Linked DNA regions of Homo sapiens: region 2 is linked to region 1. Evidence: fine-mapped expression QTL. A gene starts in region 1. The other region holds a variant in brackets. All regions are shown on one strand. Distances are from middle to middle.

The links. PIP is the estimated chance that this variant, and not a neighbour inherited with it, causes the effect. A credible set is the group of variants that fine-mapping cannot tell apart.
Region 2: its variant is the best candidate, but not a certain one, in a credible set for the expression of ZSCAN21 in Th1 cells (Schmiedel 2018, PIP 0.51).

The regions. Positions count from the first base shown.
Region 1 is chr7:100,047,223-100,052,596 of GRCh38, forward strand. It overlaps ZSCAN21 (zinc finger and SCAN domain containing 21), which reads left to right and starts at 2,552. Exons shown (of 4, transcript NM_145914.3): 1 at 2,552-2,619. RefSeq lists an enhancer at 2,454-3,073.
Region 2 is chr7:100,079,724-100,085,097 of GRCh38, forward strand. ZNF3 (zinc finger protein 3) reads right to left here and starts at 2,000. Exons shown (of 6, transcript NM_032924.5): 1 at 1,912-2,000. RefSeq lists enhancers at 1,939-2,088, 2,245-3,226 and a silencer at 2,329-2,408. The variant CT/C (reference allele first, on the strand shown) is at 3,459.

The sequences.
Region 1 (5,374 bases):
AAGGCTCATTTTTTTTTTTTTTTAAGAGAAAGCAAGTTTATTAGAGAAGTAAAGAAACAGCCGGGCACGGTGGCTCACACCTGTAATCCCAGCACTTTGGGAGGGCGAGGCGGGCAGATCATGAGGTCAGGAGATCAAGACCATCCTGGCCAACATGGTGAAACCCTGTCTCTACTAAAATACAAAAAAAAATAAAAAATTACCCGAGCGTGGTGGTGCGCGCCTGTAGTCCCAGCTACTCGGGAGGCTGAGGCAGAGGAATCGCTTGAACCTAGGAGGCGGAGGTTGCAGTGAGCCTAGATTGCACCACTGCACTCCAGCCTGGCGACAGAGTAAGACTCCATCTCAAAAAAAAAAAAGAAAGAAACAAAAGAATGCACATGGAGGCTCATTTTCTCTAATTTTGCATGTCTTTAAACATAAAAAATTTTTAAATTATCCTGGAAAATGTCAGGGAAAAATGATATTGAGTATCTATGAATTCATGACGCGTATGGACAGGGAATTCCACGTGCAGGCAGCCATATTGGTGTTCCTCAACACATGTGAGTTTTGCAGGACCAGACAAAAGCAAACTCACAGGGGGCCCGATGGAGTAGTGCTGAGGTGGAAAATACAGACTCTTCAGTCTGGAAACCTGCAGCTGAGCCAGAGCAGCAGGAGGAAAAGGCAGGCAAAGACATCTTCATCGAGTCCTGCAGCATTGGAAGGAGTTCAGCCCCTAGGTCTTCTGCTCAGGAAGTTTAGGACCCACAGAAGGGCAAGGCTACTTCTGATTGATGTCACCATGACCCTGGTCTGCAAAGTTGAGGACTAAACTCTGACTGTTTTCTTCTTTTGCCCAAATTACTATCTAAGGGGCCTGGAGAGTCACCCCCTTCAAACCATAAAGCCTCATCAGACAGGTTTTATTTAACTTTATATAACCTGGCTGACTTTTCAACCAGGCTCTGGCATAACATCACATGGCAGATAAAGAAGGAAACGAAAATATTTCCACCCCAAATATGTTTTTTTGCCATATCTTGAAATAACCCTACCAAGCTGTCTTCTCGTGGGGAAAATCTACACTTGGTAGAGAATCCCCTTCCCTTTCCAGGCCTTTTTCCTGATCCAGGAGAGAATCAACTGGGCGTCTGGCACTTTTTAAAGTCTGATAAGAAATATTTGCAGTCTGTTCTTTCTGAAGCCGGCTGCCTGGAGGCTCCATCTGCATAATGGGAACCCTGGTCTCCACAACCCCTTAGTTCAGCGGTCCCCAACCTTTTTTGGCACCAGGAACCAGTTTTGTGGAAGACAGTTTTTTCCATGGATGGCAGGAGGGGGATGGATGGTTTCGTGGTTTCAGGATGATTCAAGCACATTACATTTATTGTGTACTTTATTTCTATTATTATTACATTGTAATATATCATGAAATAATTGTACAACTCATCATAACATAGAATTAGTGGGAGCCCTGAGTTTGTTTTCCTGTAATTAGAGGGTTCCATTGGGGAATTATGGGAGACAGCGACAGATCATCAGGTATTAGATTCTCATAAAGAGTGCACAACCTAGATCCCTCGCATGCACTGTCCACAATAGGGTTTGTGCTCCTGTAAGAATCTAATGCTATGGCTGATCTGACAGGAGGCGGAGCTCAGGCAGTAATTAGAGCAATGGGGAGTGGCTGTAGATACAGGTGAAGCTTTGCTCCTGCAGCTCACCTCCTGCAGTAACGGCCCAGTTCCTAACAGGCCATGGACTGGTATCTGTCTGTGCCCCAAGGGTTGGGGACCCCTGCCTTAGTCATCCCAGACATTCCTTTCTATTGATTATAGGTCTTTAGACAATAACTTTCAGCCAGTTGCCCATTAGAAGATCCTTGAGTTCACCTATGACTTGGAACATCCCCGCTTGGAATTGTCCTGCCTTTCCCACAGAACCAATGTTCATCTTACATGTCTTGATTGGTGTCTTATGTCTCCCTAAATTGTATAAACCCAAGCTGTAGCCCGACCATCATAGGTACATGTTCTTAGGACCTCTTGAGACTGTACCTTGGGCCATTGGTCACTCATATTTGTCTCAAAATAAATGTCTTCAAATATTTTACAGTTTGATTGTTTTCATCAACGAAGTATTAACTCAATCTCTGGCTTCACGGGCCAAGCACAGCGTTCCATGTCCATAAACCTGGACCGAGGAGCTGGGCCCAAGGGTATCCAGTGACCTCGATCCAGGTTTATGGACAAGGAACCCTGTGCTTATCCCAAGGGTACTCAGGGACCTTGGGCTCTGAAGTCCACGAGGGTGACCGAGGTGGCTGCCTCAGCCCATGCCCTCCCTGCCCCAGGGCGTCGGGGTTGGGTGAGAGAACCGCCGCAGCCTTCATCTGGTCTGACCGTCTTCGGTAAAAACAGAAAGAGTCCCTGGCTTTTCATTTTCGGGGTGGACTCAACTCCTCCCTGATGTCCCAAGGGCCAGAGACACAGAGAGGACCTCCCGAATTTCTAGAGGGGCCGCTACGGCCCCGCACTACTTTTCCGCGGGGGCGGGGCTATGACGCACTTCCGGGTGCGCGGTCCCGAGGTACGCGGTGCGGTCTCCCGGTACCCGGAGCGGCTCTGATTCATGGTGAGCCTGCTGGTCGCGGGTTAGCGAGGCGGACAGGAGAGGGAGCCGTGGCTGAATGGTCTGGGGAGGGAGGAGTGGGTTTAGCAGCTGTGGCTTCCGAGGACCCCACCTAGACCGGTCCTAGCAGGGCTGTGGGGAGGAGCTCCTCGTCCCCGCCCAGGACCAGCTGGTGGGGGCGCTGGCTGCCTGGAAAGCCTTTTCTTCCACTTGGGGCTTTAACAAATGAAAGCTGGAAGAACAGATGTTTTGGAAGTTCTTTCGCGTTCCAGAATAGTTTTTTTTGTGCGTTCCCCAAGCCAAGCCGTCTATCAGTCTGACCGTGGCCGCCTTTTTTCCCTTTCTCTGAACTGGAGGTCCGAACGCAAGGCTCATTGATGGCAATACGCCCAAGGTGTTGGAAACCTGTGGGAAGCCGAACCTCATTAGAAGTGTTGGGTAGAATCAAATCCAAGGGAAGAAATAGTCCCCTCGGGCTTTGTTCGGGCTAGAACACACACACAGAATAGGGATCTGCTCATGGTTTAGAAAAACAGTCTTAAAGAACCATGTATAAATAAAAGAGTGTCAGGACAAAGTTGATTTGGGCCAGGCGCGGTGGCTCACGCCTGTAATCCCAGCAGTTCGGGAGGCCGAGGCCGGCGGATCACTTGAGGTCAGGAGTTCGAGACCAGCCTGGCCAAACCCTGTCCCCACGAAAAATACAAAAATTAGCTGGGTGTGGTGGAGCGCGCCTGTAATCCCAGCTACTCAGGAGGCTGAGGCAGGAGAATCGCTTGAACCCACCAGGTGGAGGTTGCACTGAACCGAGATCACGCCACTGCACTCCAGCCTGGGCGACAGAGCAACACTTGGTCTCACAAAAAAAAAGAACGTTGATTTGATGGGTGAGGTACTTGGAAACCCACGAAATCTAAGGAACAGTTGAGCTGTGGAGAGGAAAAGAATTAAGAGGCAAGATAATTGTTTTCAAGTGTTGGAAGGCTGCTATGGAGAAAGTGAGTATTGGTCTTGGACTAACCTAGGATTTTTGAAATGATGCGGAATTTGATTCAGGTTAAAGAATTTGTGTGGCCGGGCGCGGTGGCTCATGCCTGTAATCCAGCACTTTGGGAGGCCGAGGCGAGTGCATCACCTGAGGTCGGGAGTTCGAGACCAGCCTGACCAACATGGAGAAACCCCGTCTCTACTACAAATACAAAATTAGGCGGGCGTGGTGGCACATGCCTGTAAGGAGGCTGAGGCAGGAGAATCGCTTGAACCTGGGAGGCAGAGGTTGCGGTGAGCCGAGATCGCGCCATTGCACTCCAGCCTGGGAAACAAGAGTGAAACTACGTCTCAAAAAAAAAAAAAAAAAAAAAAAAAGGAAGAACTTGTAACAATTAGTGGAATTCTGTGGCTCAAGAATTATCTAATTTGGCTGCCTAGGGATCTAGGGATTTTCTTTTTTTTTTTTTTTTTTTTTTTTTTTTTGAGATGGAGTCTCGCTCTGTCGCCTAGGTTGGAATGCAGTGGCGCGATCTCGGCTCACTGCAAGCTCCGCCTCCCGGGTTCTAGCCATTCTCCTGCCTCAGCCTCCCAAGTAGCTGGGACTACAGGCGCCCGCCACAACGCCTGGCTAATTTTTTGTATTTTTTAGTAGAGACGGGGTTTCACCGTGTTAGCCAGAATGGTCTCGATCTCCTGACCTCGTGATCTGCCCGCCTCGGGCCTCCCAAAGTGCTGGAATTACAGGTGTGAGCCACGGCGCCGGGCCCCCTAGGGATTTTCAGGTACGGACTGAGTGTGAAGCATTTTAGCACAAGTGGGTAAGTGCTGTTCTACTTTTAGAATCTATGGTAATTTGATTTTTTTATGCCTCATCTTGTTACAGAATGGACTTGGGGCGCTTTCATAAGGGCATATAAGCTGTGGGAGATTGGCATAAAGGAGGAGGGAAAATGGACACAGAACAAGGGCCTTCTGTTTATGATAGACCATGAACTTTTGCTTGATGGACTTCTTGAGATAAACAGTCTAGATAGCTTTTAAAAAGTCACTGTGATTGTAGACAATGTGAGTTAGTAATGAAGCATTTGATTTCTAGCCGCATGCTTCTTTATTTTTTTAAGAGACAGGGTTTTCCTTTGTCACCCAGGCTGGAGCACAGTGGTACAGCCACAACTCTGCAGCCCGGAACTCCTGAGCTCAAGTTATGCCTCAGCCTGGGCAACAAAGCAAGACTTCGTTTCTACAAAAATAAGTAAATCAATAAATAAATTTTTTTTAATTAGCTAGATGTGGTGATGCACACCTGTAGTCCTGGCTACTTTGGAGGCTGAGGTGAGAGGATCGCTTGAGGCCAGGAGTTCAACGCTGCAGTGAGCTGTCATGGCACCACTACACGCCAGCCTGGGCAACAAAGCGAGACCCTGCCTCTGTAATTGAAAAACAATAAAATAAAGACCCAGTGAAGTGGTTCACGCCTGTAACCCCAGAACTTTGAGAGACCAAGGCAAGAAGATGGCTTGAGACTAGGAGTTCAAGACTTCCGTGAGCTGTGATTGTGCCACTGCACTCCAGTCTAGGCAACAGGCTAAGACACTGTCTCTAAAAAATAAAAAAATTAAATTAAAAAAAAAAAGTGAAAGAGGATTCGGGATGACCCCAGGTTTTTCGGTCCAAGTAAAAAGAACAATGAGAGTTGCCATTAGCTGAGATGAGCAGCTTTTGAGGGAGAGATGGGAATTCCATTTTGGACATGTTAAGGTTGAGATGT
Region 2 (5,374 bases), 33 kb after region 1:
CAGGGTCTGACTCTGCTGCTCAGGCTGGAGTGCAGTGAGTTTGAGCTCACTCCAGACTCAAACTCCTAAGTTCAAGTGATCCTCCCAGCTCAGCCTCCCAAGGAGCTGGGACTAAAGGTGTGCACTGCCACATCTGGCTGAGTTTTTTAAAATTCTTTTTGTAGAAATGCAGCCTCACTGTGTTGCTCAGGCTGGTCTCAATCTCCTGGCCTCAAGTGATTCTCCCACCTCAGCCTCCCAAAGTGCTGGGATTACAGGCATGAGCCACCGAGTCCAGCCTAAACTTCATTTCTAATCAAGACATTTAAAGAAAAGGAAAAAAAAGAGAATACTTATTATATGCTAATAAATACCAATTAAGACCACCACCACAACTAGTATTTGCGTTGCACCCGTGGAGAGATGAAAGGGAATGGTAGGTTCTCAGGTCCACCTCCACCCAGGGTAAGAAAGTTCTAACGTTCTGTCAGCTAACTTGCTAGACACTGTGCTCCGAACTACTTCAGCAGGGGATCCACATTGCACAGCTGAGCCATTAGAAGTCTTCAGGTGATTCGCTGAAAATCTATCTCCTTGGACCTTCACCGCACAGAGACCTAGTGCATCACAGAAATTCAATGACTGGCGACCTGCAGTGGCTCACGCCTGTAACCCCAGCACTTTAGGAGGCTGAGGTGGGAGGATTACTTGAGCCCAGGAGTTCCAGGCTATGGTGAGCCATGATGGCACCACGGCACTCCAGCCGGGGGCAACAGAGCAAGACCTTAATACACACACAAACATTTTAAAAGGAAAAAAAAAAAAAAGGCCGGGCGCGGTGGCTAACGCCTGTAATCCCAACACTTTGGGAGGCCAAGGCAGGTGGATCACTTGAGGCCAGGAGTTGCAGACCAGCCTGGCCAAAAGGGCGGAACCCCGTCTCTACTAAAAATACAAAAAATTCGCCGGAGGTGGTGGCGGGCGCCTGTAGTCCCAACCACTCGGGAGGCTGAAGCAGGAGAAGCGCTTGAACCGGGAGGCGGAGGTTGCAGTGAGCCGAGATCGCGCCACTGCACTCCAGAGACAGTCTCAAAAATAAATAAAAATTAATTTTTTTAAAAAAAGAGCTTCAATAACAGAATCTTCTCCTTCCACCCGACTGTCCATCAAACACGTATAATCAAATGATGCCCACTCTCCACAGATGTCTTTTCTGGAGAAAATAATACGCTCGTTCCTCTAATTAGCCCATCGGTTTCAGGTTCATCACTCTGCTATCTTCTCCTGGAGTTTACAAAAGCCCTTCAGAGTGTAAACACCGATGTGGATTCAATCCCACTTCCGGAGAGAGGATCAAACCAGGAATCTAATACAACTGAAAACGGAGCCTGAGCCAGGTGTATCACGCGATGCACTGGGCTCCAGCAGGATTACCCCTGGAATCGGCGTCTGCACCCACTCCCAGCCCTCGTGCTAACTGCGTACGCTTAGCAGAATTTCTCTGATCCTTGGACCCAGCTGCGTAAAAATAAACTTCCTCTCCTGCCACGGGCGCGAATAACTGTGTTAACATCAAATAAAAACGTCTGGGAGAAATACCAAGTTAGGGTCGCTGTCATTAGCTGCTTTCAAGAGAGAGGCGCCCCTACCGCTCTGCTGAAACTTTTAAACGCTCCAGCTGGGTCGCCGTTAAAGTCACAAAACCAGAACCGGAGCCCCATTACTAACCCCTACGCAGGATCCCGCTAGGCTAGGGGGATCCCTGGGGAAGCGGAGTAGAGGACGGGCTGCAGGGGACGGAGGGGCGCCTCCCCGAACCCTGCTCCGGGCCGGCCGGGGGACCCTGCGGGCCGCAGTGGCACAGACACCACCCCCTTCCCCGGCGACCACAGCCTCCGTCTCACCGCGAGACCCGGGGACGCGTGGACTCACCCTGGGGGCAGGGACGACAGATTTGGGGGACCGGACACGGACCAGGCCCTGTTGGACCCTGTCACAGACCCACACACCGGGGACAGAACAAAGAACGGAAGTTCCCCCTCGTTTCGCTTCCGGGTCGGTTGTTCTTGCCACTCACCCGTACCCCCAACGCCCACTTGTTCTGTCTAGGAAAATGGGAGGTCCTCGCCTCTCTGTGGTTTGCTGACTCAGGGCGGCTGGCAGGCGGCGAGGGCAAGGAGCGCGATCGCTGACGCGGCACTCGGGGATCTTTCGCTGCGGGGGCTGGCCGGCTGCGCCCTCTGCTGGCCACGAATGTGCGAAAGCGGCCGACCACGGTCCTGGGCCTCAGGACATGTGCTCCAGCGTCGCCGGCCTTGGGGGCGGGCGGCGGGGGCGCGCGGGGATGTCGAGCCCGCGCTTCTCAGGCTGGCTCGCGAAGGGCAGCAGTAAACATACAATTATTGAAGGATTCATCAATATTAAAAAATGAACCCTGATTTAAAACTTGCCTCCGAACAAACCGAGTTTTTTTTGTTTCTTGTAAAAATGCCCCCTTTAAATTACCCACATCTGAAGAAAACATTCCAGTCCATCACAGAGTTGACATGAGGAAAAAACCCGTGTACAGGTGATGAGAGCAGAGAAGAGGAAGCTTACCGGCCGGGCGCGGAGGCTCACGCCTGTAATCCCAGCACTTTAGGAGGCCGAGGCGGGCGGATCACCTGAGGTCAGGAGTTCGAGACCAGCCTGGCCAACATGGCGAAACCCCGTCTCGACTAAAAATACAAAAAAATTACCCGGGCGTGGTGGCAGACGCCTGTAATCCCAGCTACTCTGGAGGCTGAGACAGGAGAATCGCTTGAACCCAGGAGGCGGAGGTTGCAGTGAGCCGACATCGCACCACTGTACTCCAGGCTGGCCACAGAGTGAGACTGTCTCAAAAAAAAAAAAAAGGAAGCTACAGGTGGAAGCGAGGCGGGGATAGTCAAGGAAGTGACCGTGTCCTGGAGACGCGGCAACCGTGGTGACCGCAGTCAACACAGTAAGCCCCAGCATTCGCATTGTAATTGAGCTCATTCAAGCTGAGCGCTCTCCAGTAGGGACTTTCCCCTGTAGGGAGCATGCGCATTTTGATTTCACCTGTCCTCAAACTGACCCTTTGCTCATTATCTTGGTAAAAAACACGCCCCTGGGTGGAAATTTAAGATGCTAATGAAACATGCAATGTATGAACAAGCCTGTACACCCACTGCGCATGTGCACCTAGAGGACCACCCAGAACATACTTACTAGTAACACTTCTCCCACCCCCTTATGAATAATCGTGTAAGACCCCTTACAAAGGGGGTCTCTCTAGAGCCAGCCTTTGCTGTTTCATCCTTAGGAGCAGCCCTCCCTGAACTAACTCTCTCTCTATCTCTCTCTCTCCCAGGGTGTACTGTCTACTCTGCACTTAACTTTCAAAATACTATTTTCCTTTTGCAATAAATTACTCTATGCTGGATTTCCTTTGACATGTGTTTCTTTTATTCTTTTTC[CT/C]TTTTTTTTTTTTTTTTTTGTTGTTGTTGTTGTTGAGAGGGAGTCTCACTCTTGTCACCCAGGCTGATTCTCGTGCCTCAGCCTCCCAAGTAGCTGGGACTACAGGCGTGTGATACCATACCCGGCTAATTTGTGTGTATTTTTAGTAGAGACAAGGTTTCACCATGTTGGTCAGGCTTGTCTCGAACTCCTTACCTCAAATGATCTGCCGCCTCAATCTCCCAAAGTGCTGGGGTTACAGGTGTGAGCCACCGCGCCCGGCCTCCTGTGTGTTTCTTGTTTAAATTTTTTTTTTCTTTTGAGACGGGGGTCTTACTCTGTCACCCAGGCTGGAGTGCAGTGTTGTGATTTCGGCTCACTGCAACCTCCACCTCACAAGGTCAAGTGATCCTCCCACCTCAGCCTCCCAAGTAGCTGGAACCCCAGATGCATGCCACCACGCCCGGCTACTTTTTTGTAGAGACAGAGGGTTTTCACCATGTTGCCCAGACTGGTCTCAAACTCCTGAGCTCAAGGGATCCGCCCACCTCAGCCTCCCAAAGTGTTGGGATTACAGGTGTGAGCCACTGCACCCAGCCTTAAATCCTTTTAAACTAAGAAGATAAGAAATGAGGTATCACAATAGCCATCAATAGAAGGAAAGCACCTCATCATGTTCATGCTTTCCTCTGCCTTCTTCAACATATGAAGTCTTTTTTTTTTTTTTTTTTTTAGAGACAGGGTCTCACTCTGTCACCCAGGCTGGAGTGCAGTGGCGCGATCCTACCTCACTACAGCCTCAACCTCCTGGACTCAGGCGATCCTCCCTCCTCAGCTTCCAGAGTAGCTGGGACCACAGGCACGCACCATCACACCTGGCTTCCTTTCTGTTTTGTAGACTGGGTGCTGCCAGTTCATGAATCCCTAATAAAGCCAACTCAATCTTTAAAATTCAATTTGTTGGCCGGGTGCAGTGCTTCACGCCTGTAATCCCAGCACTTTGGGAGGCCGAGGCAGATAGATCACCTGAGGTCAGGAGTTTGAGACCAGCCTGGCCAACATGGTGAAACCCTGCCTCTACTAAAAATACAAAAACAAAAATTAGCCGGGAGTGGTGGCAGGCACCTGTAATCCCAGCTACTTGGGAGACTGAGGTGGCAGAATGGCTTGAACCTGGGAGGTGGAGGTTGCAGTGAGCCGAGATCGCACCACTGCACTCCAGCCTGGGAGCGACAGAGGGATACTCCATCTCTGTATATATATACGTATCCTGAAGTATGTTTATGGTCTGTTTCCTACAACTAGGGTATAAGCTCCATGAGGTCAGGACTTCGTTTTGTTTAGTGATGTACCTGCTGCCTGGTAGGCACTCCCAAATATTTGTTAAATTAATGACTGATAGGTGAATAGATAACCACTGACCCATACCAAAAAGGAGCACTTGCTTTTTGTTCGTTTTTGTTTTTGGGGTGGGGATATTTTTTTGGTTTGTTTGTTTGTTTGTTTTGAGACAAACAAATATGGCGAAACTCTATCTCTACAAAAAATACAAAATTTAGCCTGGCGTGGTGGCACGCATTTGCAGTCCCAGCTACTTGGGAGGCTGAGATGGGACAGTCACTTGAGTTCAGGAGGTTGAGGCTGCACTGAATTGTGATTGTAACACTGCACTCCAGCCTGGGTGACAGAGCAAGACTCTGTCTCAAAAACAACAATAACAAACACAAAACAAAACAAAAACAAAAAAAAAGAAACGTTTAGCAAACTTAGTTCTAAAATGCGCACAATCAACTGATTCAATGTCAAAGTCATCCTTAAATTCCACAATAATCTCTTGTTTTATGAGCTGTATAATTATCTGAACAATGTTTCAAAAGCACCTGAAACAACAAGGCAAAGGAGTTCTTTAATGTGTGAGAGAGCAGTGCAAACGATC